Linked DNA regions of Homo sapiens. The protein of the gene in region 2 binds, or shares a complex with, the protein of the main gene of each other region. Each region holds a gene or a part of one and is shown on either strand. Other genes may lie near its edges.

Region 1 (15,300 bases), on a different chromosome or scaffold from region 2:
CAGCTCACTGCAGCTTCAACCTCCCAGGCTCAAGCCATCCTCCTGCCTCAGCCTCAGGAGTAACTGGGACTACAGGTGTGTGCTACCATGCCTGACTCATTTTTAAATTTTTTATGGAGATGAGGTCTCACTATGTTGTCCAAGCTGGTCTCGAACTCCTGAGCTCAAGCGCTCCCCCTGCCTCAGCCTTCCAAAGTGCTGAGATTACGGGCACTAAGCTATCATGCCCAGGTTTTTTTTTTTTTTTTTTTTTTTTTTTTTGAGACAGAGTCTTGCTCTGTCACCCAGGCTGGAGTGCAGTGGTACGATCTCGGCTCACAGCAACCTCAGCCTCCTGAATTCAAGTGATTCTCCTGCCTCAGCCTCCCGAGTAGCTGGGATTACAGGTGCCCACCACCACGCCCAGCTGATTTTTGTAATTTTTAGTAGAAGATGGGTTTCATCATGTTGGCCAGGTTGGTCTCAAACTCTTGATCTCAAATGATCTACCCGCCCTGGCCTTCCAAAGTGCTGGGATTACAGGCATGAGCCACTGTACCCAGCCATCATGCCCATCTCATTTTATATTTTTAGAGACAGAGTCTTGCTCCAACGCCCAGGCTGGAGGGCAATGTAGTGGCGCCATCATAGCCACTGTAGCTGCAAACTCCTGGGCTCAAGTGATCTTGTCATATCACTATGTTGCCCAGGCTGGTATTGAACTCTCGGCCTCAAGTGATTCTCCTGCCTCAGCCTCTCAAAGCAATAACATTATAGGTGTGAGCCACTGGGCCTGGTCTGTTTTTTGTATCTTGAAAAGATTTGTTTTTTTTGAGACGGAGTTTCACTCTTGTTGTCTAGGCTGGAGTGCAATGGCGTGATCTTGGCTCACTGCAATCTCCGCCTCCCGGGTTCAAGCGATTCTCCTGCCTCAGCCTTCCGAGTAGTTGGGATTACAGGCATGCACCACCACACCCAGCTAATTTTGTATTTTTAGTAGAGACTGGGTTTCTCCATGTTGGTCAGGCTGGTCTCGAACTCCTGACCTCAGGTGATGTGATCTGCTTGCCTCAGCCTCCCAAAGTGCTGGGATTACAGGTGTGAGCCACCATGCCCGGCTGAAAAGATTTCTTACAACAGGTAAGTGGTAAACTGTAATTTAAAAATCAGATTAAAATATGGTAAACATTTAAAGTTCCAGTTGGGAAGCGGCAAGCATCAGGTACATGGACCTGCCATCAATTCTGTGTGGGGTGGGGATGGTCTAACTTGACAAATTCTGGAAAGCGTCATCTGATTCCTAACTGGTGAAAGCAAAAGTTAAAAGTTGGAAGGAAAAACCCATGTGTTTAACAGGCTCACTTTAGAGATGAAAACAGGCGCACCAAGAACATGCCTCAGGGCTCATTTCCATCAAAGCCCAGGATACAGACTCTTGACCAACCTCCGCAGACACCGCCTCCTCTCCAGGGCACGTGGCTGCTTCAGACCTCTGACAGCAGCCTGAGGTCCGGGCAACCAGGTAAAAACCCCGACGCAGCACTCCCCACGCACACGGTCCCCAGCACTTGAAGGTGCAAAGGCCTGGTCCAGGGTGCAGACGTGCCCTTCACAGTGGGAAGCGTCGGAAACACACAGCCTTGCTTCCTACTAACTCCTTTCTTCTGTTTTATGCACAGACGAAGCAGCATTTGCTAGTCTTTGAATAACTTTTTATGAGAAAACAATTATGTAACAAATAGCCTTTTGATTTCTCTGAATGAGGGGTTGGCAAATTATGACCAAGAGGCCAAATGTGGCCAGCTGCTTGCTTTTCTGTATGGCCCAAGAGCTAACAATGGATTTCACATTGTTTAATGTTTGGCAGAAGAAAAAGAAAAGAATACTATTTCATGACATGTGAAAATCACACAAAATTCAAGTGTTAGTCTCCAAAAATACAGCTTTATTGGCACATAGCTGTGCTCATTCGTTTATATAGGATCTGTAGCTGCCTCCGTGCCACAGTGGCAGCACTGAGGAGTGGTAACAGAGGCCTCAGGACGCACAAAGCCCACAGCGTGGATCACTGGGCCTCTGCACGGAGAAGGCCTGCAGACCCTGTCACCGCCCCAGTGGTAATCGGGAGTGACAGGGCCTGAAACAAGTGTCACTTTGGTTGATCATTTATTCATTCATTAAATAACTATTCAAATTCCGTGCTGAGGAGAGCATTTTCTTTCCTTTTTTTTTTTTTTTTTTTTGAGATGGAGTCTCGCGCTGTCACCCAGGCTGGAGTGCAGTGGTGCAATCTCGGCCCCCAAAGTGCTGGGATTACAGGCGTGAGCCACGGTGCCTGGCCGAGGAGAGCATTTTCAGACTCCTGTCTTCACCAGCACCTTTCTGTAAGAAGATCCCATATGTGCAGAAGTGAAGTCAGGAGTGTATGTGAACTGCGCCGCTCCCCTCCTCTGGCCCGAGGACCTGCTCCACGCGGCAGGGCTGTTGCAGCGCACCAGCATCTCCCAAAAACGCGGCTCTCGAGCCCTTGGAGGCTGCTGTCTCATATCGCAGTCCCCAGCCCCTGTGACTACTGAAATTTTACCAAACGAATAATATTACAAAAAATAAAAAACTCAGTTCCTCGGTCACCCTGGTCACATTTTTATTTTTTTGAGACGGAGTCTTGCTCTGTCGCCCAGGCTGGAGTGCAGTGGCGCGATCTCGGCTCACTGCAAGCTCCGCCTCCCAGGTTCATGCCATTCTCCTGCCTCAGCCTCCCGAGTCGCTGGGACTACAGGCGCCTGTCACCATGGCCGGCTAATTTTTTGTACTTTTAGTAGAGACAGGGTTTCACTGTATTAGCCAGGATGGTCTCGATCTCCCGACCTCGTGATCCGCCCGCCTCGGCCTCCCAAAGTGCTGTGATTATAGGGGTGAGCCACCACGCCCGGCCACCCTGGTCACATTTTAGGTGCTCAAGTTATAGCACTGCCCTAGGCCCTTCTATGTGCTGTAAGATGAAAACTATTTCACCAAAACTGAAACCAATTTTTTTTTTTTTTTTGAGACGAGGTCTTCTGGAGTGCAGTAGCGTAATCACAGCCCACTGCATGCAAACTTGACCTCCTAGGCTCAAGCAACCCTCCTAATTCAGCCTCATGAGTAGCATGAGGGACTATAAGCATGCACCACCATAACCAGCTATTTTCTTATTTTTTTCTACAGAGACAGGGTCTCACCATGTTGCCCAGGCTGGTCTTGAACTCTGGGCCTCAAGTGATCTTCCCACCTCAGCCTCCAAAAGTGCTGGAGTTGCAGGTGTGAACCCCAAAGCCCAGCCTGAAACAATTTTGTTTTGAGACGAAGTTTCTCTCTTGTTGCCCAGGCTGGAGTGCAATGGCACGATCTCAGCTCACTGCAACCTCTGCCGCCTCCTGGGTTCAAGTGATTCTTCTGCCTCAGCCTCCTGAGTAGTTGGGATTACAGGCATGCGCCACCAGGCCCGACTAATTTTTGTATTTTTAGTAGAGACGGGGTTTCGCCATGTTGGCCAGGCTGGTCTGGAACTCCTGACCTCAGGTGATCCACCCGCCTCAGCTTCCCAAAGTGTTGGGATTACAGGTGTGAGCCACTGCGCCCGGCCTGAAACAATTTTTATAACACTAAATTATCATTTGCCTTTTGCACTATGTTGGACATCTGCACAGATGGGAAAAAAGCAATCTTTTTTTTTTTTTTTTTTGAGAAGGAGTCTCACTCTGTTGCCCAGGCTGGAGTGCAGTGGCATAATCTCGGCTCACTGCAGCCTCCACCTCCTGGGTTCAAGTGATTCTCCTGCCTCAGCCTTCCGAGTAGCTGGGACTACAGGCGCATGCTGCCACACCCAGCTAAAAAGCAAAAACAAAGGAAAAGAAAGCCAACATCACCAAACTCTACTGTTATCACACACACTGCTGCTGCTGTACAGTCACAAGAAAAAAAATACCAGCCATGCTTAAGAAAATTTGTTTAAAATTTTTCTTCTTTTTTTTGGGTAGAGATGGGTTCTTGCTATGTTGCCCAGGCTGGCTTGAACTCCTGGCCTCAAGTATTCCTCCTGCCTTAGCCTCCCAAAGTCCTTGGATTATAGGCATGAGCCACTGCTCCCAGCCAAGAAAAAATATTCTTTATTTTTAAGACAGGGTCTCACTCTCTCATCCAGGCTAGAACGCACTGGCACAATCATGGTTCACTACAGCCTCAACCTCCTGGGCTCAAGCAATCTTCCCACCTCAGCCTCCTGAGCCATTGGGACTACAGGTGCACCACCACACCTGGCTAATTTTTAAACTGTTTTGTAGAGACAGGGTCTCACTACGTTGCCCAGGCTGGTCTTGAACGCCTGGCCATAAGTAATCCTCCTGTGTTCGCCTCCCAAAGTGCTGGGATTATAGGTGGGAGCCACTGTGTCCACTCATTTCTTAATTAATTAATTTATTTTTGAGATAGGGCCTTGCTCTGTTGTCCAGGCTGGAGTCCAACAGTGGCATCACAGCTTGCTGCAGCCTTGGACCCCTGAGCTCAAGTGATCCTGCTGCCTCAGCCTCCTGAGTAGCCAGGACTACAGGCATGCACCACCACACTTGGCTGATTTTTAATTTTTTGTAGAGACAGGGTCTTACTATGTTGCCCAGGCTAGTCTTGAACTCCTGGCTTCAAGTGATCCTCCCACTTTGGCCTTCCAAAGTGCTGAGATTACAGATGTGAGCCACCACACCTGGCTGAAAAAATATTCTTGATGAGATAGTAAAAAGTATTCCTTGTATTAAATCTTAAGCGTTTGGTACATGTGTGTGGTTTTTTTTTTTGTTTTGTTTTTGTTTTTGTTTTTGTTTTTTGAGACGGCGTCTCGCTCTGTCTCCCAGGCTGGAGTGCAGTATCTCGGCTCACTACAAGCTCTGCCTCCTGGGTTCACACCATTCTCCTGCCTCAGCCTCCCGAGCAGCTGGGACTACAGGCGCCCGCCACCACGCCCGCATAATTTTTTGTATTTTGTTTAGTAGAGACGGGGTTTCACCGTATTAGCCAGGATGGTCCTGATCTGCTGACCTCGTGATCTGCCTGCCTTGGCCTCCGAAAGTGCGGGGATTACAGGTGTGAGGCACCGCGTCTGGCCGCCTGGTACATGTCTTTTATTCTGTGTGATGAAACATTCTGCCTATCTCCTCACACAGAATAAAAGATGTGCGCTGCATAGGCACAGTGGCCACATCAGGAGGCAGTACTTGGGCAAGTGTTGGAATTTACAGCTGAAGTAGCTGCTTGCCCTCGTGGAGCACATTAAAACTTTCAGGAATGACTGAGAGATAAGCTATAGTTACTAAGCTCTGGTTATATGTCAGACATTTTCTCAGAAATGAACAAAGAGGGCCAGTTACTTCAAGGACAACTGACAGTATTTGTTGCCAATGCTAAAATTTGGGCTTTCATAAAAAAATCAAATGCTTTGGAAAACTTGTACATGGGCTTCACAGCTTCTCAAAATTTATTATTAGTATTATTTTTTGAGACAGGGCCTCACTCTGTCACTTAGGCTGGAGTACAGTGACATGATCAAGGCTCAGTGCATCTTTGACCTCCCAGGCTCAGGTGATTCTCCCACCTCAACCTCTCGAGTAGCTGCAGCTACAGGCATGCACTACCATACCCAGCTAATTTTTTTTTAATAGAGATTAGGTTTCGCCATGTTGCCTAGGCTGCTCTCGAACTCCTGAGCTCCAGGCTAGAGTGCAGTGGTGCAATCATAGACCCTGAATTCCTGGGCTCAAGCAATCCTTCCCCCTCAGCCTCCCAAAATGCTGAGATTACGGGTGTGAGCCACCATGCACGCCCTGCTTTTCTAAGTTGGTAAGACTTGTTTGAAGAGACTGATGGTGGTATTAACAAATGTTGATTTTTTTTTGACACTGTATAGTGAAATATGTCAACATATGGAAAATCTGCAGAACTTAAGTGTCAATTGAAAAAAAAATCATGCAAGCACAAAAGATCCATTCCAAGTACAAGATGGATCAATGGATTCTAATGTCACAGACTATGAAAAATCCAGTGCTATAGATTCTGGTTCAATGTCGCAACTAACCTTTAAGAAACCTTCACTGGCTGAATTTTGGTATAGTATCAAAGAATATCCACAATCAGCTGAAAGGGCTACGAAAATACTTCTCCCTTTACCAACTACAGGATTTTCTTCATACACTTCAACCAAAATAACCAATCACAACACAGTAAATGCAGAGGCAGATACCCTTAATAACGCCACTATTCTTACTTATTTTTGTTTTGGAAAAATTGTTTTTCATATAAATGTTTTCTATGGGTGCCATGTAACAGACTATTTTAAATGAACTAAATATTTAAAAATTTTTCTCTTTTTTTTTTTCAGACAACAATCTCACTTTTGTCTCCCAGGCTAGAGTGCAGTGATGTGATCTGGGCTCACTGCAGCCTCAAACTCCTAGGCTCAGGCAATCCTGCCGCTTCCGCTTCTCGAGCAGCTAGAATTATAGGCGTGCACCACCACACTTAGCTAGTTTTATTTTAGTTTTGTAGAGATGGAGCCTTGCTATGTTGCTCAGGCTGGTTTTGAACTCCCAGCATCAAGCAAGCCTCCCATCTCAGCCTCCCAAAGTGCTGGGATTACAGGTGTAAGCCACTGTACTCAAATTTCTCAACTTTAGTTTCCAGTAGAGTAAGCAATGATAGATAATCCACACAACAACTCTCTGGGGCCCTCAATTTCTAAGAGTATAAAGAGCCCTGAGATTCACTGTACTCCACACTCTCCAGGGTCCCTTCCAGCTGCAGAGTAACATGGTCTCAGTCTCTAACATTTCTCTGCAATCTTTCCCAAAAGTGTCATCTGCAGCCTTGGACTTTCTGAGTCCTGTCTCCCATTTCTAAGGTTCACTTGACAATTTTCTGATACCCTGTTATCTCTTTACTGTGGATACATCTCAAATGGATTCCATCCAACTTCCACTGTGAGGCGGGCTTACCTCACACATCTCAGACCCCAAAGATGCCTAACCTACCCCTCCCCCATGTCTCACTACACAGGGTCCCTAGGCGCCACCCTGCCCCTCACTCTGCATGCTCAGCTTCCTCACTGCACCTGCAGAAACCTTCTGCCTCCAAGTCACCCTGTGCTGTCATAATGACCATCTTCCTTAAATTATGGCTTTTTTGGTTATTCTCCTACTCACATACATCACTGGTTCTTTATACTTTTATGAGTAAAGCCAAGCTCCTTAACCTGCTCAAGGACCCAGACACATTTCAACTCGGCCCCTGCCAGCACCATCAGAAGACAGCTCTGCAGCCTGGGTGCCCTCGGAGCAGCAGCTCATCTCTCACTCCTGCCATGAGCCCCACAGGCACAGGGCAGGGGTCCTGCTCAGCCTGAGTGTTTCTGCAGGGGAAAGTCTGGGGAATGGCAGGCAAGAAAGGTAAAAGGGCAGATAGAATTATGTTTCTACTTTAGCTTTTAATCCTCCACATGGAATCCTAACACCGTGGAAAAGCAGCATGCTTTAATAAGGTAATGAATAAATGGCCTACTTTTTTTGCGCGGCTGCGAAGGAGATGTTGACTGAGAGGCTGTGCCGTTACTGCTACTCTCTTCTTCCTCTTTAACTTCTACTTTCACTTCAGGTTTCTTTTCATCCACTTCCATTGGTTCTGATTTCTGCTCTGCTATGTCTGTTTCTTCTTTAACTTGGGAAGCTCCTTGCAAATCCTCCTCCATCATCTTGAGAAAAACATTACAGATAACATATGAATATCAAACACCTTTATGTTACCGCAACCTCACGGGAAGACTCTTACAAGCCTAAAACAGGTTTGTTAAAACCTTCCTCTAGTCAGAGTTGCATTTATGATTCCTCTTCTCTTCCGGAAGAAGAAATAAAGTACTTGGTGTTCATTAAGTCGCTTCAGCACAGAGTCAGTGCAATTATGGTCCTAAATTTAAAAGTGTTTTTTTTTTTTTTTTTTTTTTTTTTTTTTTTTGAGACAGAGTCTAACACCCAGGCTGGAGTGCAATGGCAAGATCTTGGCTCACTGCAACCTCCCCCTCCTGGGTTCTAGCAATTCTCCTGCCTCAGCCTCCCGAGTAGCTGGGATTACACGTGTGTGCCACCACACTCGGCTAATTTTTTATATTCTTGGTAGATATGGGGTTTCATCATGTTGGCGAGGCTGGTCTCGAACTCCTGACCTCAAGTGATCCACCTGCCTCGGCCTCCCAAAGTGCTGGGATTACAGGTGTGAGCCACAGCTCCCAGCCTAATTTAAAAGTTTTTAAATGTAAAACTGCTTTAAAAATTGCACATACTCAGATTTTTCACTACAGATATTTCTAATTTGGAATAAAAATCTCCTTGAAAGTTGGGGCAGGGACCAAAAGTCCTTCTCAGAGGCAGGTGTGGTATGAGACAGGAAGGAGCAGTGGGGACTGTGGCTAATTGGAGAGCCCACTACAGTTGGTGCTCACAACCAGACTGCTGTCACACAGGGATGCAGGCACAATGCTGAAAGCATCTCATTTTTCAAGAAAAGCCAGAAATCTAGAGTTTTATTTGCAATTTCCTGATTTTTAAGGTATTGTGTGGGCCAAACACATTTAGAGGCTGGATCCAGCCCACGGTCTGCCAGCTTTCAGCTTCTGCCATAGGTTAATTAGTAAATGAATCCACCACCCCTTCTGTAGTCTACCTCTGCAGAACTAGAAATGAATGGAGAACATAAAATAAAAGGCTGTTGGATGATTCAAGTATTTCAAATATAAGCCAGTATTCTTCATTTCGGGCAAAATAAACCCACCCCTCATATTTAAAAATGAAAAACCAAGCTGTTTTCAATCAATTTCCTATACACCAAACCCCGAACCCACATTCAAACAGAATATTTTAACTAAAGTCAGGGATACCCATGGCAGGCTCCAAGCCTCGCCCGAGGACACCTGGGTAAAGTTGCGATACGCAGTCAATGCATTCCTAGGGAGCGGCACCCACCTCAGACCTGGGCTCCCCTTTGGATTCACCAGGATCGGGCTCAGTGTCCTCTGCTTGGGTCTCCGTCTTCATTTCCAGCACAGGTACGTCAGGTCCTGGCTGCTGGGAATTGGTTTCTGCGCTGGCCACCGAGGAGGGGGTAGGGACTCTGTTATCAATGCTGGCTGCTGCCTGGGAAAGCTGTGAAAAAACCGAAAGCACTGACTTCAGTAAGCAAGGTAACATAAATGATCTTCAACTATGCTGCTCATGCAACCTACAATTTCCCATTAACATTTCTCAATACTGATCCAGCAGGTGCCCTTCTGTGAAACCGAAGAACAGGGGTTAAAGTAGGAATGAGTTCTAGAGGGAGGTAACAGCAGCCAGAGGTACAACTCAGGTCTTGCCACAAAGGCAGAGGAAACAGCAGAGCTTTTCAAACTTTGACATAAATTTATTTTCTCGAAGTTTTCTAGCTAAATCATGAAATCTCATATTTTGAAATTAATTCCCTTCAATATGGTGGTTAATGTGTATGGTAAAAGGCTGAATTATGAATGCCTAAGCACATCTGAAGGGAGGGAAATCAAGTGCCTACCCAAAGACAGTGTTACCCAGCCTGTGTGAACGGTAGGAACACGGGTGCTGGTGGAGTAAATGAACATTACACGAAGGAACCACTAAAAGAATTCCTAATTTGCAAATTCTTACTCAATGGAATTTTTTTTTTTTTGAGACGGAGTCTCACTCTGTCACCTAGGCTGGAGTACAATGGCGCAATCTCGGCTCGATACAATTTCTGCCTCCCAGGCTCAAGCGATTCTCCCGCCTCAGCCTCCCGAGTAGCTGGGAATACAGGCACCAGCCATCATGCCCGGCTAATTTTTATATTTTTGTAGAGACAAGGTTTCACAACTTTGGCCAGGCTGGTCTCGAACTCCTGAGCTCCGGTGATCCGCCTGCCTCAGCCTCCCAAAGTAGTGGGATTACAGGCGTGAACCACCGCGCCCAGCCTCAATGGAGTTTTAAGTAAACAAACAAAAGATGACAATGTCTCGCTCTGTTGCCCAGGCTGGAGTACAGTGGCGTGATCTTGGCTCACTGTAACCTGTACCTCCTAGGCTCAAGTGATCTTCCCACCTAAGCCTTCTGAGTGGCTGGGACTACAGGACTACAGGCACACACCACCATGCTTGTCTGGTTAAAAAAAATTTTTTTTTGCTGGAGACGAGGTCTCACTATGTTGCCCAGGATGGTCTTGAACTCATGGGCTCAAGTGATTCTCCCACCTTGGCCTCCCAAGGTGCTGAAATTATAGGTGTGAACCACCGCGCCTGGCCTGACACACAATTTTTATGGGAAAATTATCTTCTAAGAGTCTTGGCCCAAAAACAGCAGAGACAGAGAGGCTTACCGGTGTGCCAGGAGGCTGGGCGTGCACAGGCGTCGGCTGTTGCTGCGATGACTGAGGGGTAGCCACAGACGGGGGCTGAACTGGGGTTTGAGGCTGCGGGGTCACCTGGGCCTGGGCTGCTGCCTGGACTGTAGGGGTGCTCTGGGTTTGGGTAGCACTGGGCACTGAGCCAGGAGTCGGGGTGGGAGTCTGCCCGGAAGACGACACAGGAGTTGATGGCTGAGTGGGAGCTGCTGGCTGGGGAGGAGTCATCCCAGGTGGTGTCGTGTGCTGGAGAGATGGCATGCCAGCAGCCGTGGAAGCAGGAGGCGGTGTTGGGTGCAGTGGTGACTGTGTCACTGGAGGGCAAGGTAGCTGGCTGGCCTGAGGCCCCAGCATGTTGAGAGGGTTAGGAAGAGCAGCACCAGGCACCTGTCCCTACCAGAAATGGACAGAGTATGGTAAAATTATTTCCCCCGTTTGAAAATGTGATGAAACATTTGAAAAATTAAATGTATGAAAAAAAAATTTTTTTTTTTGAGACAGTTTCACTCTTGTCGCCCAGGCTGCAATGCAATGGTGCGATCTCGGCTCACTGCAGCCTCCGCCTCCTGGGTTCAAGCAATTCTCCTGTCTCAGCTTCTCGAGTAGCAGGGATTACAGGTGCCCGTCACCACGCCCAGCTAATTTTTCTGTTTTTAGTAGAGATCGGGTTTTGCCATGTTGTCCAGGCTGGTCTCAAACTCCTGACCTCAAGTGATCCTCCCGCCTCGGCCTTCCAAAGTGCTGGGATTACAGGCGTGAGCCACCGCGCCCAGCCAAATGTATGGGAATTTAATCACATTTTCTTGGGAGTGTTCTGCTTGTGAAAATTCATCGAGCTATACACTTGTAATGGGCACTCCTCAATAACGGTAAAACTACACACGTTTCTTATAGTCTGATTTATATAATTAAAACAACCATTGAAACTTATGGCTTAAACACACACATCTACAGCAGTCCCCTCATATCCACTCGGATACATTCCAAGACCCCCAGTCTTGGAACGCCTGAAACTGCGGATAGTACTGAACCCAATATTTACCAAGATTTTTGGATCTGACAACCAAGGTGGACACTCAGTGACTAAGAGGTGGGTAGTGTCTACAGTGTGGAAATGCTGGACAAATAAATGATTCACATCCCTGGGGGCACAGAGTGGGATGGTGACAGAATTCATCATGCAACTTGGAATGGCACTCAATTTAAAACTTTTTTTTTTTTTTTTTAAAAAAAAAAAGACAGAGTCTCGCTCTGTCACCCAGTCTGGAGTGCAATGGCATGATCTTGGCTCACTGCAACCTCCATCTCCCGGGTTCCAGTGATTCTCCTGCCTCAGCCTCCTCAGTAGCTGGGATTACAGGCGTGCAATACCATGCCTAGCTAATTAATTTAAAATTTATGAATTGTTTATTCCCAGAATTTCCCATTTAATATTTTTGGACCACAGTTGACCCCAGGTAACTGAAACCTCAGAAAGTGAAATGACAGATTGGGGGAGCTACTGTACATTGACCCAGCCTATAAGCTTCATGTTCTATAACATGTACCCAATGTTCTTTAACATTTTCTAAGCTTAGCTTAGAAAAAGGTATTTTTTTTTTAAGTTGCTTCTTCCCTGGGGACTATAAAATAAATAAATAAAAATAAGAATAAAAGTTATTGACCATAAATATATACATCCATAAGTACCCTTAACAATTAAAAATTTAAAAAAAAAATTCTCTCTGAAACACAAACACACACACACACACACACACACACACACACACACACGTTAGTTACTGAAAGAGAACTGTTTCAGTGCAGTGGTTCTATACTGGGGATACACTTCAGAATTATTTGTGAACATTTTAAAAATGATTCTGAATCACTGTTCTAGAGCAGGGGTTGGCAATCTCCCAGGGCAAACACACTGAGCTGCTTGTTTCTGTAAATAAAGCTTTATTGGCACACAGCCACCTCATTTATGTACCACAGCAGCTTCTGCACTACAAGAACAGAAGTGATGAAAACCAAGATTGAATGGCCTGCAAAGCTGAAAATATTTAGTATCTGGCCCTTTACACGAAGTTTGCTAATCCTTGTTCTAGAGAAATGAAATGTTATGGAAAGTTAAGAATAATCATTTAGTGAGGAAATCTAATATATAATAATGACTTATGCAGCATTATTTCACATTAAAAACTCAAAACAAGGCTGGGTACGGTAGCTTACTCCTGTAATCCCAGCACTTTGGGAGGCCGAGGTGGGTGGATCACCTGAGGTCAGGAGATCGAGATCAGCCTGGCCAACATGGTGAAATCCCGTCTCTACTAAAAATACAAAAAAAAAAAAAAAAAAAAAAATTAGCTGGGTGTGGTGGCGGGCATCTGTAACCCCAGGTACTTGGCAGGCTTAGGCAGGAGAATCGCTTGAACCCGGGAGGCGGAGGTTGCAGAGCCGAGATTGTACCACTGCACTCCAGTCTGGGCAACAAAACGAGACCCTGTCTTAAAACAGACAAACAAACAAAAAAAAACTTAAAACAAGAATTTTATCTTTTAGGGAGGATTTGGTGTGTTTTAAATACATGTATATTTTGTATACAGTAGCAATGATACGCACTACAACTAACAAAAGAGGAAAAAAGGAAGGAATAAATGGAAAATCAATTTCTTCAGCTCTAGATTGAGAAATTAAAAACATTTAACAAGAAGGGAACTATTGAAATGATTCTGTTAGCTTGATTTCACCTGGCAGTGGAGACAGGTCAAAAGAAACAAAAGCCAAATCATCAAGAGTGAATTCATGGGTCCTTCTCACTCGCTTTTTAAAATCCTAATGCCTCTCAGGGTCACGTTAAAGTTAGAATTTAAAATACACAAACAAAAAATAAGAAAACAAAAACTCAAAGATCAAAACACAAAAGCATACAAACCAAAAATTCTAAATCCATTCCCACTTTTGCATATAGTTAACCCAGAAAGGATAAGAGAAATTCCAAACGAGTTAAGGACTACAGGACAAAGGTGGAGAAAACAAAGAGAAGCTGATACAAAGACATGAAATGTGCATTCTGGAATTTTAATTTCCACGAAGGAAGACAGAAAAAAAAAACCAAAACTTAACACAAGAATTTTATTTCCTAGGGAGCCACGGTCCCAGTGGGGCACAGTACCTGTGACACGCCTGTTTGGGCTGGCGGCTGCCCCATGCCCACACTCATCGCCCCGCTGGATGACGGGAACTGGTTCTGTGGCAGAAACTGGCTCTGAGCGGGCGCCTGGGCCATCATGTTGTTGGTGTGTGCACCCATCATGTTCGGAGGCTGAGGCATTCGGGAAGGAGAAATGGCCATCTACGAGACAACAAGCACCACCAGAGCTGTAGTTCGGAAGCTGACGGCCAGAGTTTTCAAGGTGAGCCAGAATGATCCAAGGCTTCACAACCCCAGAGGATGGCAAGCACAGGGCTCACATCCTGCCCTTCCTCATGGGAAGAGACCACCACTTGCTAAGAACTCCCGCGCTCCTGGGCACCTTACACACTTTCTCAGGCAATCTCTCAAATGAGCCAGCTTCAAAATGTCCTCTGAATAGAAATCAATAGCAGGCTATAATTTAAAGTTTAAGACATGCCTATGAGTTCTCTAAAGTGTTTAGAAAGCAGCCTCGGAACAGCGAGCTCTCAGTCAACAGATGCTGACAATTCCCTGCTGGCCACATATCTGAGGCTGCCTTCTCCAGCCTTGGAACTCCCACATTCTCACAAAGCCACACATTCCTATGAATTTGTTATTCCAATAAAATAACTAACAGTCAAATAATTCTGTGTAGTAATAATTTTTTTAAAATGAGAGATGAAAGAAATAAAGCATAACCCAAATTCAAAGGAACAAGAACCACAGGATTCTCAAGTGACATGAATTCTGCTGCTTAGATAATGTTCCATGTGAGAGGGAGGGCTATCTGCAGCACAGCGAAAGAGAACACTTACCCCTGGCACTGAGCCCATGCTGTTCATCTGGACAGAGTGGTTCATTGGGGAGGCTGCACGAGGTCCCATGGGTGCTTGTGGCAACTGGACGTTCCCCAAGGACATGGGGTTAAATGAATTCATCCCTGTAAATGTACCCACAACGGTTCATTAGGAAAAGCACCCACAGGAAAACAGAATTACAACTTGCTAAATAAACTCTTAAGTAAAATAAGATGGAACGCACAGGCAACAGAAAACTGAAAAGAAATCACCCAATTAATCAATGAAGATGATGAAGGAACAGACTTCTCCATATCCAGAGAAAACGGCATCAATGTGGGGGTGGTGACGGTGGCATGGTGAGGGGTACCAGGGAAGGACGAGGACATGAAGGCATAAGGTTGGGTAAGACAGGAACAAGTGAGACATTAAACGAGGCTGTGGTAGAGCTGAGCCAGAGGGCACAGTACCAAAGTGTCATAGCAACAAAGAGGGTGAGGAGGTGCCCTGAAAGGACAGCACCCTCACAAGCTACAGAAGAGATGTTTCCAGAGACCAGGGCAAGCTTCTGTGCACACCCATACCTAATGCCTCTGGAGCAGCTGACGCCCATCATCCGAGGATTCCCAGCTCCTTGCTGGGTTTACATTCATTGTTAGAATCTGTGCTAAGTCTCCAAATGTTCTTTTAATTTTGCAAGCACCTTAAGCATTAAGAAGTGCCCAAGGGTCAGCCGTCCTCAACCTTAGCCTCCTGTAGTTTACAGGAACACCACATCACTGAAAGACACTTCACAGCCAGTAAGTGTCTCCAGACTGCGGTGTCTAGTTCCTTCCAATTTCCAATAATACTCTGTAAACTCTGAGTTCTAAAGAAGCACCAGTTCAAATTAGTCTTAGGACCAACACT
Region 2 (15,300 bases):
TCCCCAACAATTTGGAGCAATAGGAGAATCTTTGAAAAAATAACACGGCACGCCCAATTCCTACTTTCTTCATTTGAACTGAGTGTCAGTTCTGATATGTTTGTTAGATTAAAAAGTAGCAGGACAACGTTATTATCACCTTATAGTTTGAATTTCTAAAGTCCACATATTCAGTGCTAAAGAATTATTTGGTTGTTTAACTGAACACCACACTCATTTTTTGGAAGGTGCAGTTTGCTTCTTAAGCCCAAAGCAGCTAAGCCTGAGCAACAGTAAGTGTGTGTGTGAGCATGTGTGTGCACGTGTGTGTGAGCATATGTGCACACATGTGAGTGTGGGTATGCGTGTGAGCATGTGTATATATATATATGTGTGCATGCTTGTATATGTGTGGGTACGTGTGTGGGTACATGTGTGCATAAGGTGAGGGTATGTGTGTGCATATACATGCATGTGAGCATGTATAAGCACATGTGTAGTTTGTAAGTGTGTGTGTGTATGCATCTGTGTGAATGCATGTGTTTGTATGTGTGTGTATGCATGTGTGTGACTGTATGGGTGAATGTGGATTTGTGTGTGCCTGGGTGCATGTGTGTGAGCATGCATGTGTGTGTGTACACACAGGTGTGGGTACATGTGTGAGTGTGCGTGTATCCATGTGTGGGTGCATGTGTGTGTGTGCGTGTGTGGGGGTGGAGGTGCGTCTGTGTGCATGTGTGGGTGCACGTGTATGTGTGGGGGTGTGTGTGTTTACACGTGCATGCATGGATGTGTGAGTGTGTACCCATGTGAGCATGGATGCTTGTGTGCGTGTGGGTGCATGTGTGTGTCCATGTGCATGTATGGGGGTGGAGGTGCATCTGTGTACACGTGTGGGTGCATGTGTATGTGTGGGTGTGTTTGTGTACACATGCATGCATGGATGTGTGACTGTGGGTGCATGTGTGTGAGCATGCATGTGGGTGCACGTGTATGTGTGTGTACCCGTGTGTGCACGGATGTGTGAGTGTGGGTATGTGCGTGCATTTGTGCATGAGCGTGCATCACACAGAAGGCACTGACTCTGCCCAAGCCCCTCAGTCTCATTTTCTGTTGCTTCCTCCAAAGTCTTCTGACGACATTCTCAACCCCTGACAGGTCAACATCTTATGTTTTTAGACACTGTTGAAAAGCACCCATTTTTATTGCCTCCCTCAGCCCCCTGACTCTGCTTCCATCCCTGTTACCCTCAAATCAAGGGGCAGTGAGTTCCCCAGAGGCGCCCTTCCCCATCACCAAGGGCCCTGACCATTTTCTGGCCCACGGTTCTGAAATCTCAGGGGCTCAAACAGTCCCAGTGTCCAGATGGACACAGACATTCTCCATCCACCCCTCACTCCTTCCCTCAGCTAAAGCCCACCTTTCCTCAAGCAATGGCATCTATGCGGCTCCATGCAGCGGCCTCCCCCTGCCCCCACAGCCTCCTCCGTGCACCCTGGCCGGTTCCAACCCCGACCCAAGCCTCCTGGCTGATTCTAGGCCTCCCACAACTCCCCCACCGGTTTCAGGCCCCCCCCCAGCATTCTAGCCTGTTCCAGCTCAGCCATGGGGCTTTGCGTCATCTGATCTGAAGGCCACGAGCTGATCTTGACAGAAGAAAGGCATTGGCCACTGCAAAGAGAAATTCAGTCCCCCGCTTATAGCAAACCAGAGGGCTGCTTTGAAATTAAAATCTATCCATCCCCCGTGCTTCCCCATCAAGGCTTTGAACATTTCAGGGTTGCTTTCACCCCAGCAGCCCCTGCAGGGAGGAGGCGAGCCTGCCTTCCCCAGCACACAGCCCACGTTCATTACGGTTCGTATGAATCCATTAGTTTACTGGCCTGGACAGTTTACTGTGCCGCCTCTCATCCCCAAACAGAAATGAAGTCAGCCGCCGGCCCTGAGGTCAGTGTGCCTTCCTGAGGCTCTGTGGGGCGTGGCTGGGGCTGTGAGGTCACCCAGGCTGGAAACTGATGAAACGGCGACCGCATGTGGGCCACTGGGCAGAGATCAAGGTGTTTCCAGGCCGCTGCTTGGTCTCCCTAACAGATTTCTTGCCCACAGATGGGGTTGCTTTCTGAGATGTGTAAGGGACACAGGCTATGGTCTTCCACTACCCACCTTGGCCACAAAACCAGAGCTCTGCCAATAGATTCAGGCAGTGTGGCCTGGTGGTGGGCATCCTGCCAACGGGGCCTTTTCCCAGACTAAGCAGAGAGGGTATCCTGCACCTGAAGGAGCCAGCTCTGGAAAGCCCGTCAGCAGGCTAGGCAGGGAGGAGGGGGCCGTGCCTCCAGCGTCCCGTGCGCAGACAAGGACATGGGGTGGGACGCAACCCTGGCTTGGAGCAAACAGTGTGATCAAACACAAAGAGTCACATGATGGTTGGAGGTTGCCTTGAAAACTGGTACCTGCGGTGCTCTGGCTTTGTGGGTGTGGGTGGAAGAGGGCATCTGACTCTCGGAAGAGTGCCCGGTTCTCTTTTTCTACAGAAAACCAAATTGTGAACCCCAATCCTAAACTATTCATCTATCATTTCTTTCTTTTTTTTTTTTTTTGAGATGGAGTCTCACTCTGTCACCCAGGCTGGAGTGCACCGGTGTGATCTCGGCTCCCTGCAACCTCCACCTCCCAGGTTCACGCCATTCTCCTGCCTCAGCCTCCCGAATAGATGGGACTACAGGCGCACACTGCCATGCCCGGCTAATTTTTTGTATTTTAGTAGAGATGGGGTTTTACCATGTTGCCCAGGCTGGTCTCGAACTCCTGAGCTCAGGTAATCCGCCCTCCTCTGCCTCCCACAGTGCTGGGATTACAGGCATAAGCATGAGCAACCACGCCTGGCCCTCTTTTTTTTTTTTTTTTGAGATGGAGTCTCGCTCTGTCACCCAGGCTGGAGTGCAGTGGTGTGATCTCGGCTCACTGCAACCTCTGCCTTCCAGGTTCAAGCAATTCTCCTGCCTCAGCCTCCTGGGTAGTTGGGATTACAGGTGCCCACGACCATGCCTAGCTAATTTTTGTATTTTTAGTAGAGACGGGGTTTCACCATATTGGTCAGGCTGGTCTCCAACTCCTGACCTCAGGTGATCCACCTGCCTCAGCCTCCCAAAGTGCTGGGATTACAGGCATGAGCCACCGCGCCTGGCCTATTATTTATTTCTTTAAGGCCAAAATGCAAACAGATTCCCGCCTGCTAGTTGCTGCATGTGACCCTCAGCTGAGGGTGATGGGGTTCCTAGAGCTTGGTGGTCTCCAAGGGGAGGTGCAGGAGGACTCCAGGAGTCCCATTCGCACCCCATGGTGGGGGCAGGTTGTTAGGAAGAAAGACAACTTAACTCTGCTTCGAATTTTTTTTAGAGAGTCTCGCTTTGTCGCCTAGGCTGGAGTGCAGTGGCGCGATCGTGGCTCGCTGCAGCCTTGAACTCCTGGCCTCAAGGCATCCTCCTCAACCTCCCAAGTCGCGGGGACTATAGGCATGTGCCACCATGCCTGGATAATGTTTTTATTTTTTGTAGAGATGTGGTCTTGCCATGTTGCCCAGGTTGGTTTTGAACTCCTGGGCTCAAGCCATCCTCCCATCTCAGCTTCCCAAGTACCTGGGACCACAGGCACATGCCACCATGCCCAGCTAGTTTTTTAAAAAATCATTTTTTGTAGAGACGAGGTCTCCTTGTGTTGCCTGGTCTCAAACTCTTGGATTGCCTCAAGTGATCCTCCCGCCTCAGCCTCCCAAAGTGCTGGGATTACAGTGTGAGCCACTGTGCCCAGCCTGCTTTCAATTCTGAAATCCAAGGGAGAAATATAAGCTGGCAAACAAAAGTTTTAGCCATCCCAATTTTGGGCTGTACTAATCATATCCAGGATAGAGACTCGAAGCTAAAAGTTACCTTTTCTTTCACTCTCGTAATCCAGGAAAGTTCTAATTGGGACAAGCCTCTGGAGCTGCCTAGTGTGGGTGTCTGCTGGAAACTTCTAAAATGTCTCGGCCTATTTAATTGGAGAATTCACTGAAGAATTAAAGGACTCAGTAAAGAAGAGGTTTGGTTTGTTCATGAAAGTAAGTAGCTTGTGAAATGCTTTATTTTCCTGTGACTAAAATTCCACCTTGTAATTCCCAATAAGGATTGCTTCAAGCTATTTAATACAAATTAAACCTGTTTCACCATGCTCATAGGAAAATGTCAAAGTATCTTCATTCACCAACTGAGGGCTGGCTCTTCTTTGAAGGTAGCTCTGAGATTTGTTTTGTAATGGAGACAAAGACTTATTTAACTGTTGGGGAGGGGGAAGGAGGACTTAGGCCAGGCAGGCGGGGATGTGGGGGACGAACCATGAGGGGCAATTTGGCTGCCTCTGAAAAGGTCCAGAGCTACCTTAAAAGACAGGCTTTCTATAACAAGTGGTCCTTTCTTTTCCTTTCTTTTTTTTTTTGAGACAGAGTCTCACTCTGTTGCCCAAGCTGGAGTGCAGTGGTGCGATCTCAGCTCACTGCAACCTCCAGCTCCCAGGTTCAAGCAATTCTCCTGCCTCAGCCTCCCAAGTAGCTGGGATTACAGGCAACCGCTACCATGCCCAGCTAATTTTTTGTATTTTTAATAGAGATGGGGTTTCACCATGTTGGCCAGGGTGGTCTCAAACTCCTGACCTCAAGTGATCCACCCACCTCAGCCTCCCAAAGTGCTGGGATTACAGACATGAGCCACCGCGCCCAGACACAGCTGGCTTTGTCGCCCAGGCTGGAAGTGCAGTGGCACGATCTCGGCTCACTGCAAGCTCTGCCTCCTGGGTTCACGCCATTCTCCTGCCTCAGCTTCCCAAGTAGCTGAGACTACAGGCGCCCGCCACCACGCCCGGCTAATTTTTTGTATTTTTAGTGGAGATGGTGTTTCACCATGTTAGCCAGGATGGTCTTGATCTCCTGACCTCGTGATCCGCCTGTCTTGGCCTCCCAAAGTGCTGGGATGACAGGCGTGAGCCACCACGCCTGGCTTACAAGTGGCCCTTTCTAAGCCCCAAGATGTCACTGTCTTTTCACTGAAGGCGGAAAAAGAATGTAGGCATGTTTGTCTGAGAGGGAGGGAGTAGTTTTAGGAGAAAGGACCAAGAGCACATTTTGAGTGGGAAGTAAGTGGTTTCCTTTTCTAGCCTTATGATATGGTTTGGCTCTGTGTCCCCACCCAAATCTCATGGTGAACTGTAATCCCCAGTGGTGGAGGTGAGGCCTGGCGGGAGGGACTGGATCATGGGGGTGATCCTTCATGAATGGTTTAGCACCATCCTCTTGGTGCTACTCTAGTGATAGCGTTCTCACAAGATCTGATGGGTGAAAAGTGTGTGTCTCTTGTTTTTGCTCCTGCCATGCAAGACGCCTACTCCCACTTCACCTTCTGCTATGAGTCAAATTCCCTGAGGCCTCCCCAGAAGCAGAAGCTTCCTGTACAGCCTTGTGGGCCACGAGCCAATTAAACCTCTTTTCTTTATAAATTACCAGGTCTCAGGGATTTCTTTATAGCAGACTAATACACCTCAAAGTAGGGATTTATTTTATTATTCTATTTTTTTTTTGAGATAGGGTCTCGATCTGTCACCCAGGCTGGAGTGCAGTGGCATGATCTCAGCTTGCTGTAACCTCTGCCTCCCGGGTTGAAGCAATTCTCATGCCTAAGCCACCCAAGTAGCTGGAATTACAGGTGTGTGCCACCCTGCTCAGCTAATTTTTGTATCTTTAGTAGAGTTGGGGTTTCTCCATGTTGGCCAGGCTGGTATCAAACTCCTGGACTCAAGCAATCTGCCCACCTTGGCCTCCCCAGAGTGCCAGGATTACAGGCATGACCCATCTTGCCTGGTCAGTTTTTTTTTTTTTAAATCCAGTTAATGCTGGGTGCCATGACTCACACCTGTAATGCCAGTGCTTTGGGAGGCCGAGGTGGGAAGATCACTTGAGGCCAGGAGTTTGAGACCAGCCTGGGAAACATCTCATCTCTACCAAAAAACAAAAACAAAACAAAACAACAACAACATCAAACATAGCCAGGTGTGGTGGTGCACACCTGTAGTCCCAGCTCCTTGGGAGGCTGAGGCAGGAGGATTGCTTGAGCCCAGGAGTTCAAGGCTGCAGTGAACTATGATTGCACCACTGCATTCCAGCCTGGGCAACAGAGCAAGAACCTATCTCTATTTAAGAAAAAATGCTCCTAAGAAATCATCTTAGTACTTGGTAAGCTATTAAGGTTTTTTTTAAGTGTATTAATTACATAGCCAGTATAATAACTTAGTTGCTAAGAGCTTTGAGGTGGCTCCAAGCAAGAAGAAAGGAGTTGTTGTTAAGCTACAGCTCAGAGTCTCAGAATGAACTGTTTCCATCTTCGCTGTCCTTTGCTTAACTGTGGGATAAATATAATTTTCTCAACATTCAACACATGTGTCCTTAATCGTCCTCTACGACACTGGTTCCATGTTGCCAAGAGAACCCAGAACAGCCGCAAACACCTACTGGATTGTTACTGGCCTTTCCTGAGAGGATGACCCGGGCTTTGACCTTGTTCATGTTGAAGTTCTTCAAGTAGGCCTCGTAGATTCTCTTGGCCAGAGATTTGAGATCTGCAGTTTCAGAATCTTCTATGTCATGTTCACAGGTAAGAATTTCTGCTTTCAGTTTTGCTTTCTCAGATCTTGGCATTCGTCCAAAACGAATCGCTAGGGTTTGGAGGGGGAAACACAGGCATGAGCAGTGAGGTCATGACTGCGCGGACAGGGCTGGACGAGGGGCTCCCCCAGGACTTTAAACCAGGAATGAAAATTCACAGGCAGTTCAGACCCATCCTTCATTACTATTCGGCTTTCCACTATGGAGAGATGAAAAACTCAAACTCCATACACTGTAGATGTTTAAACAGGTGCAGGCTGAAGGTGACACCATCGTTAACAGGTGCAGGCTGAAGGTGACACCATCGTTCGTCTCATTAGTAGGGTGCACACCACTATCAGGTGCATCATCAACCTTTGAGTGAAGGAGGTGAACGGGGCTTCGGGATGAGTTTATATAATAACTGCTTCTTTTTCCAGAAGGTAGACATGCAACTCTTATGAACGACTTACATTCACATCACAATTAGCATGTTCTGAAACTATTAAATGATTGGCTAGAAGGAAATTCATAACGTGGTGAGATGTTTGAGGTGGTACACCCTTCCTATGGACGAGGTGAACATTCTGTCATTTTGGTGCCTTCCACTTGGTTTTTCGATTCTGTATCAAAGTCTTACCACTGAAGTTTCTAACAGCGAGTCCAATGCACCACTGAATCTCAGCTATTTGAGACTTTTTCTTTTTTTTTCTTTTTTTTTGAGACGGAGTCGCACTCTGTCGCCCAGGCTGGAGTGCAGTGGTGCGATCTCAGCTCACTGCAACCTCCGCCTCCCGGGTTCAAGCTATTCTCCTGTCTCATCCTCCCAAGTAGCTGGGATTACAGGTGTGCACTACCATGCCCAGCTAATTTTTGTATTTTTATTAGAGACGGGGTTTTGCCATGTTCGCCAGGCTGGTCTCAAACTCCTGACCTCAAGTGATCCACCCGCCTCGGCCTCCAAAGTGCTGGGATTACAGGTGTGAACCACCGCACCTGGGAGACTTTTATTTTCTTTCTTTCTTTCTTTTTCTTTTTTTTTTTTTTGTGAGACGGAATCTCCCTCTGTCGCCCAGGCTGGAGTGCAGTGGCGCAATCTCAGCTCACTGCAACCTCCGCCTCCCGGGTTCAAGCGATTCTTCTGCCTCAGCCTCCCGAGTAGCTGGGACTACAGGCATGTGCCACCACACCCAGCTAATTTTTGCATTCTTAGTAGAGACGGGGTTTCACCATATTGGCCAGGCTGGTCTCAAACTCCTGACCTGAGGTGATCCACCCACCTCAGCCTCCCAAAGTGCTGGGATTACAGGCGTGAACCACCGCGCCTGGGCGACTTTTATTTTCTTAGGCCACTCTGATTACAAAATGACTTGGGTGTGAAATGTTGAAGCACATTCATCCATAGCTTGATCTGTTCCCTTGGAGCAAGGAAGGGGAACTGAGGAACGAACTGGGAAAATGTGCAGGGCCACCTTACCTACCGTTGTGTGACATCCCGACAGAAAGGCACTTGTGAAATCGACAATACTGGCATTTGTTTCTGTTCTTTTTCTGGATCTTGCAGCTGCGGTCGCACTTGTCATACACCAGCTTGAGTCGAATCGTTCGCCGAAAGAAGCCCTGTGAGGGTAATACACAGTGGATTTAAAGACCTGGGCCACTGAGAAACCAGCGCACTTGCTTTACTCACCTTTTTTGTTGCTCATTTATTGTTTCTTTTTAAATGAACAAAATTTAGAGAAAAGTTATTCCAGGCCAGGCATGGTGATCATGCCTGTAATCCCAGCACTTTAGGAGGCTGAGGCGGGTGGATCACCTGAGGTCAGGAGTTCGAGACCAGCCTAGCCAACATGGTGCAACCCTGTCTCTACTAAAAATACAAAAATTAGCCGGGCATGGTGATGTAAGTCTGTAGTCCCAGCTACTCAGGAGGCTGAGGTAGGACAATCACTTGAACCCAGGAGGCGGAGGTTGCAGTGAGCTGAGATTGTGCCACTGCACTCCAGCCTGCGCGACAGAGTGAGACTCCATCTCAAAAAAAAAAAAAAAAAAAAAAAAAAAAAGAAAGAAATAGTTCTTCTAAGAAGTCTGGAATGATTAGGACAAATACAGAACTTTAAATGTCGTTACATTTAATGTGAAAAACAATAAAATGAGGCAGCATTCGAAGTCATTTCAAAATGCCCTCATCTGACTTGGGAAAACACAATTATAGTTTTCCAAAGAGTTACTCAGCCTTGTTACAATGTATATGAATGTAACTATCCCCAGCATTGTGACATTTCCATATTTGTGACTAAAGACTTTCTAAGAATTTTTGTAAGAGTATATTAACTCCCTCAAAGACAAAAATTATAATAAAAGGAAGCCAGCTGTTTGTAAACAATTTTCTTGCTTTGTAAAAGCATCTTAAACTCTACCCAGCAAGAAACAATGTTACTAAATAGTCCATAAAAAACAAAACTAAATGAATAATTAATCATGGCCCTAAGGAAAAGGCCACTTTATAAGGAGCTTTTTCAAAGGTATATGGTTAGAAAACATGCGAAGGAGTTCATTTTTGCTTTGGGTTCTTTTTTCTCTTTGCTTTTAAGTCATTCTTCTATATTTTTGCCACAGTGGGTCTGCTTGGCCCGCGGGAGAGGGACAGCAGTGTGCAGGGGAATGTGAGAGGCAGGCTGACGTCTTCATAATGTCCTTACCTAGGCTTGCACAGTGGGGAGGCTGAGGAACGCATGGGGTTAGAATGGGAAGGGTGGGGAGACAGGCTTCTAGACAGCAGAGTGCCACAGTGTCCTGGCTGTGAGGTTCTCCCTGTGGCCCAGGCCTCTGAGGCCAGGCCTGGCTCAGGGCAGAATGCTGGTGTTCCAAGATGGTACATTGTGCCAGAAAGGCGGTGGCATTTTCCAAGTTAGTGAACACCTGCAGCGTGCACCGTGAGAAGGGATTTCTGATTCAAACCAAACATTCAGATGATGATCTCCCACATATCACGTACATAAGGCGCCAGACTTGAGCACGTCTGTGCAACCCTAAAGGGACGCTGCTACAGGAGCTCTCCTCATCACCACGCTGACAAACACGGAAGGGCCACCAGTCCAGCTGGCAGCATGCAGGACAACAGGGCCTGCCTTCATGCACTCCTGGCCCAGGTCACATCTGTTTAGGGCAGGCTGAGCCAGCAGGAGGATGAAGATGCACAGGGGGTTCCTGTCGCTTGAATCAGGTGGAGAAGCCCCTGATGTGCAGGAAGGAACTGCTGGGGAGCAGGAGCAGCCAGTCTCTGGTTCCAGTCCCTGCTGCTGGGGGCTGTGGGACCCTAAGCAAGATACTCTGTGTCTCTGATGGCCAATTTCCCTGGCAGGAGCATGAGAACACCTGCCCCACCTGGCCTTCAGGGAGGCTCCAGAGATCAACGGTAACAGCTCTCTGTCTTGTATTCGAATGAAGTGATGTTCTTAATGTGGCTTATTTTCTTTTCTCTCTTTTTTTTTTTTTTGAGATGAAGTTTTACTCTTGTCGCCTAGGCTGGAGTGAAATGGCTCGATCTCAGCTCACTGCAACCTCCGCCTCCTGAGTTCAAGCAATTCTCCTGCTTCAGCCTCCCAAGTAGCTGGGATTACAGGCACCCACCACCACACCTGGCTAATTTTTGTATTTTTAGTAGAGACAGGGTTTCACCATGTTGGCCAGGCTGGTCTTGAACTCCTGACCTCAGGTGATCCAGCCGCCTCGGCCTCCCAAAGTGCTGAGATTATAGGCGTGAGCCACTGCACCCGGTCCAATGTGACTTATTTTCTTTTAAAGAATGCACTTCTCTAAGTATTTACAAAGCACAGAGGAACCATTTGTCCTAGACTCTCTAAAGCAGCAATCCCCAACCTTTTTGCCACCAGGGACCGGTTTCATGGAAGACAATTTTTCCACAGATGGGGGTGGGGAGGGATAGTTTCAGGATGAAAGTGTTCCACCTTGGAACATCAAGTATTAGATTCTCATAAGGGGCGTACAAGCTAGATTCCTCAAATACGCAGTTCACAACAGGGCTTACGCTCTCAGGGGTTCTGTGCTATAAAGAGAGGCTAATCTATCACTGAGGTCAGTTTCTTTTTCTTTTTCTTTTTTTCTTTCTTTTTTTTTAAGATGGAGTCTCACTCTTGTTGCCCAGGCTGGAGTGCAGTGGCGCAATCTTGGCTCACTGCAACCTCTGGCTCCTGGGTTCAAGCAATTCTCCTGTCTTTGCCTCTCGAGTAGCTGGGCTTACAGGCGCCCACCACCACGCCTGGCTAATTTTTTTTGGTATTTTTAGTAGAGACAGGGTTTCATCATGTTGGCCAGGCTGGTATCGAACTCCTGATCTCAGGTGATCCACCCATCTCGGTCTCCCAAAGTGCTGGAATTATAGGCATGAGATACCGCGCCTGGCCTGAAGTCAGTTTCTTATCCGGGACTTTCTGCAATCTCTCAGTAATGACTGCCATTTGCTATAAAAGTGACCATAAGTAGTTGATGGTGGCGGCCACCAGGCCCTGTTCCAGCTCCCCTCTACCTTGCAGCCTTCACACGCGTGGACTCCGTAATGATAGCCTGAGGCCTTGTCCCCGCAGATTCTACATTCGATGTTCAATGCTCCACTGGGAGACTCGTCCACGCTGCCGGGGACCACAGGATAAGTCACCGAGGAGGGGCTCGAAGCTGGTGAAAGCGTGTCTGGGGAAAAAGAGGAGAGACGGATGAATAGTCCAGGCATCACTATCCTGTGTCTGAACCGGGTCTATGAGGATGTGATTTCGCATACGAGGCTTCTAGTGCTGAGGCATAAACCTCAGAACACCCATGCGGGGCCGGGCCCTGCCTCTGGGTCACACCCTCTTGCACTCCTACAGCTGCCATTGTGCTGTGCTCCCAAAGCCAGCATGCTCGCTCTCACTGCTGCTGAGCTGACCCCGAGCTCCGGACCCACACACCTCAGATCACACATCCCTGGACCCGCACATCTCCGCCCCGCATATCTCCGGGCCCGCGCGTCTCCCATCCACACATCCCGCCCCGCACATCTCCTCATTCCCACATCTTCGATCTGAGCATCTCCGATCCACACATCTCCGCCCCGCGCATCTCCGGACCTGCACATCTCCCATCCACACATCTTCAGATTTGCACATCTTTGGACCCGCACATCTCTGGACCCACGCATCTCCGGACCCGCGCGTCTCCGGACCCGTGGATCCCCGGACCTGGGCATCTCCGATCAGCTCATCTTTGCTCTGCTCTGCACATCTCCAGACCCGCACATCTCCGGACCCCCACATCTCTGGACCCCCGCATCTCCTGACCCCCCAACATCTCCTGATCCACACATCTCCGCTCTGCACATTTCCGGACCCGCGCATCTCCGATTCGCCCATCTCCTGATCTGCGCATCTCCGGACCCACGCATCTCCTAGCCCTCCACATCTCCGATCCGCACATCTCGGGACTGGCACTTCTCCTGATCCGCACATTTCCTCCGGACCCCCACATTTCCGATCTGCACCTCTGGGTACGCGCACATCTCCGGACCCACACATCGGACCCGCACATCTCGGGCCCGCACATCTCCGCTGCACACATCTCCAGACCTGCACATCTATGGGCCCGCGCCTTGCCATACCGCCCATACCTCACCCTGCAGGACTCCCCATGCCCCCGCACTGACAGTGCCACGCAGAACTCGTTTTGTTTGCTTCCTTTCTTCCAGTTCTTCCGCAATTGTTAACTCAGTAAATGGCACCAGAATACAGTATAAAAATCTGTGTGGGCAACACCAAATGCACAATCCATGAAAGAGAAAATATAAGTTGGAATCTATGAAAGCTAATGAAACCTTCTGCTCTGCAAAAGACATTGCTAAGAAAATTAAAGACAAGCCACAGACTGGGAGAAAATATTTTCAATACACATGTGGTAATATACAAAGAGGTCTTAAAACAAACAACTCAATTGAAAAATGGGGGCTAGGCGTGGTGGCTCACGCCTGTAATCCCAGCACTTTGGGAGGCCGGAGCAAGCGGATCACGAGGTCAGGACATCAAGACCATCCTGGCTAACACGGTGAAACTCCGTCTCTACTAAAAACACAAAAAAATTAGCCGGGCGTGGTGGGGGCGCCTGTAGTCCCAGCTACTCGGGAGGCTGAGGCAGGAGAATGGCGTGAACCCAGGAGGCGGAGCTTGCAGTGAGCCAAGATCGCACCAATGCACTCCAGCCTGGGTGACAGAGCGAGACTTCATCTCAAAAAAAAAAGAAAAGAAAAAAAAAAGAAAAAGTTAGCTTGCCATGGTGGTGCGTGCCTGTAGTCCCAGCTACTTGGGAGGCTGAGGCAGGGGAATCGCTTGGACCCGGGAGGCAAAGGTTGTAGTGAGCTGAGATTGTGCCACTGCACTCCAGCCTGGCGACAGAGCAAGACTCCGTATCAAAAGGAAAAAAAAAAAAAAAAAGAAAGAAAATGGGCAAAAGATCTGAACATCTGAACAGTCACTTCAGCAAGGACGATATACAGATGGCAAGTAAGCATATGAAACAATGCTCAGCATGATATGTCATCGGGGCACTGAGAATGAGAACAACAATGTGGTGTCACCACACACCTACTAGGATGACTAAAATCCACAAAACTGACATCATCAAATCTGGTGAGGATGTGGAGCAACAGGAACCCCCATTCATTGCTGGTGGGAATGCAACATGAGACAGCCCCCTTGGAGGACATTCTGGCAGTTTCTGACAAAGCAAAGCAGTTTTACTGTATGATGGAATCACACTCTTAGGTATTTGTCCAACTGATTTGAAAACTTCTGTCCACACAAAACCTACACATGTATACAGCAGTTTATTCTTTTTCTTTTTGGGACAGAGTCTCACTCTGTCACCCAGGCTGGAGTGGAGTGGCACGATCTCAGCTCACTGCAACCTCTGCCTCCAGGTTCAAGTGATTCTCCTGCCTCAGCCTTCCAAGTAGCTGGGATTACAGGTGCCCATTACCACGCCCGGCTAATTTTTGTATTTTTAGTAGAGACAGCGTTTCACCATGTTGGCCAGGCTGGTCTCAAACTCCTGACCTCAAGTGATCTGCCCGCCTTGGCCTCCCAAAATGCTGGGATTACAGGTGTGAGCCACTGTGCATGGCCAGCTTTATTAATTGCCAAAAATTGGAAGCAACCAAGATGCCCTTAGATAGGTGAATAGATATACAAACTGTGGTACAAACAGACAGTGGGAACTCATTCAGTGTAAAAAGAAATGAGATATCAAGCCATGGAAAGACATGGATGACTCTTAAATGCATATTGCTATGAAAGAAGTCAGTCTGAAAAGGCTACATACTATATGATTTCAAATTCATGGCGTTCTGGAAAAGGCAAAATTATAGCAATGGTAAAAAGAACCATTTCTGAGCTGGCTGGGGGTGGGAGAGGCAGGGTTGAATAGGTGAAGCATGGGGTTTTTTGATGTGGTGAAACTATTCATATGAAAATCTAACAGTGGTCTGGGCACGGTAGCTCATGCCTGTCATCCCAGCACTTTGGGAGGCCGAGGCTGGCAGATAACTTGAGCTCAGGAGTTTGAGACCAGCCTGGGCAACATGGTGAAACCCTATCTTTACAAAAAATACAAAAATTTGCTGGGCTCAGCGGTGTGCACCTGTAATCCCAGCTACTTGGGAGGCTGAGGTGGGAGGATCACCTGAGCCCTGGGAGGCTGAGGCTACAGTGAGCTGAGATTATGCTGCCACTGTACTCCAGCCTGGGTGTCACAGTGAGACCTCCATCAAAGGAGAGGAGAGGAGAAGAGAGGAGAGGGAAAGAGAAAGAAAGAAAAGGAAAGGAGAGGAAAGGAAAGGAAGGAGAGAGACCGGGTGTGGTGGCTCACGCCTGTAATCCCAACACTTTGGGAGGCCGAGGTAGGTGGATCACAAGGTCAGGAGTTCGAGACCAGCCTGGCCCACATAGTGAAACATCGTCTTTTGTATTTTGTAAAAATACAAAAAGTTAGCCAGGGGTGGTGGTGCGTGCCTGTAGTCCCAGCTACTCGGGAAGCTGAGGCAGCAGAATGGCTTGAACCCAGGAGACGGAGGTTGTAGTGAGCCGAGATTGTGCCACTGCACTCCAGCCTGGGTGACAGAGCAAGACAAGAAGGCGAGAAAGCAAGAAAGAGAGAGAAGGAAAATGTAGTGGTGGATACATGACACTACGCATTTGTGAAAACCCACAGAACTTTATAGTTCAGATTGAACCTAATGTGTGCAAATAAAACAAAAATAACTTAGGAGGTTGGAGGATCCCAGGGTGAAATGCAGAATGTAACAAAACAATCTAACTGTGCTACGAATGTAGGAAACAATCTCAGGGGAAAAAGTGGGTGCAGGTGCGGAAAGGCGCTGCACCGAATAATTTGGAATGATTGGAATCTGTAAGACTAAAGGCAAAAGGATCTGGCTGTAAACACTGTGCTCTAGCTGATGGAGTTTTTTTCCCACAGGGTGTGGGTTAACAGTTCTGATACCACTGTGCAGGTATACTGAAAATGAACCATGAACTCAAGGAATGGTGAATTGACAGGTAGGCAAGTGGAGGAGGCTAGAACGATCCATCTGGTAACAGATGAGGGCTGGA

Evidence for each region.
Region 1: the proteins of PPARA (region 2) and CREBBP are in contact, whole or in part, in a crystal structure (PDB 9IWL), measured with the Homo sapiens proteins. Residues at the interface, in NP_001001928.1 of Homo sapiens: Val284, Thr285, Thr288, Glu289, Lys292, Phe297, Leu302, Asn303, Gln305, Val306, Thr307, Leu309, Lys310, His457, Pro458, Leu459, Glu462, Ile463; in NP_004371.2 of Homo sapiens: Asp62, Ala63, Ala64, Lys66, His67, Lys68, Gln69, Leu70, Ser71, Leu73, Leu74, Arg75.

What each region holds. Positions count from the first base shown.
Region 1 is NC_000016.10:3,760,160-3,775,459, forward strand, and holds part of CREBBP (CREB-binding protein), read right to left. Parts: intron 14,535-15,300; coding exon 14,410-14,534; intron 13,772-14,409; coding exon 13,592-13,771; intron 10,828-13,591; coding exon 10,411-10,827; intron 9,195-10,410; coding exon 9,015-9,194; intron 7,751-9,014; coding exon 7,561-7,750; intron 1-7,560. UniProt on the Homo sapiens protein: Acetylates histones, giving a specific tag for transcriptional activation. Mediates acetylation of histone H3 at 'Lys-18' and 'Lys-27' (H3K18ac and H3K27ac, respectively).
Region 2 is NC_000022.11:46,211,229-46,226,528, reverse strand, and holds part of PPARA (peroxisome proliferator-activated receptor alpha), read right to left. Parts: intron 11,357-15,300; coding exon 11,196-11,356; intron 8,267-11,195; coding exon 8,128-8,266; coding exon of another isoform or gene 8,124-8,127; intron 6,718-8,123; coding exon 6,515-6,717; intron 1-6,514. UniProt on the Homo sapiens protein: Ligand-activated transcription factor. Key regulator of lipid metabolism. Activated by the endogenous ligand 1-palmitoyl-2-oleoyl-sn-glycerol-3-phosphocholine (16:0/18:1-GPC). Activated by oleylethanolamide, a naturally occurring lipid that regulates satiety.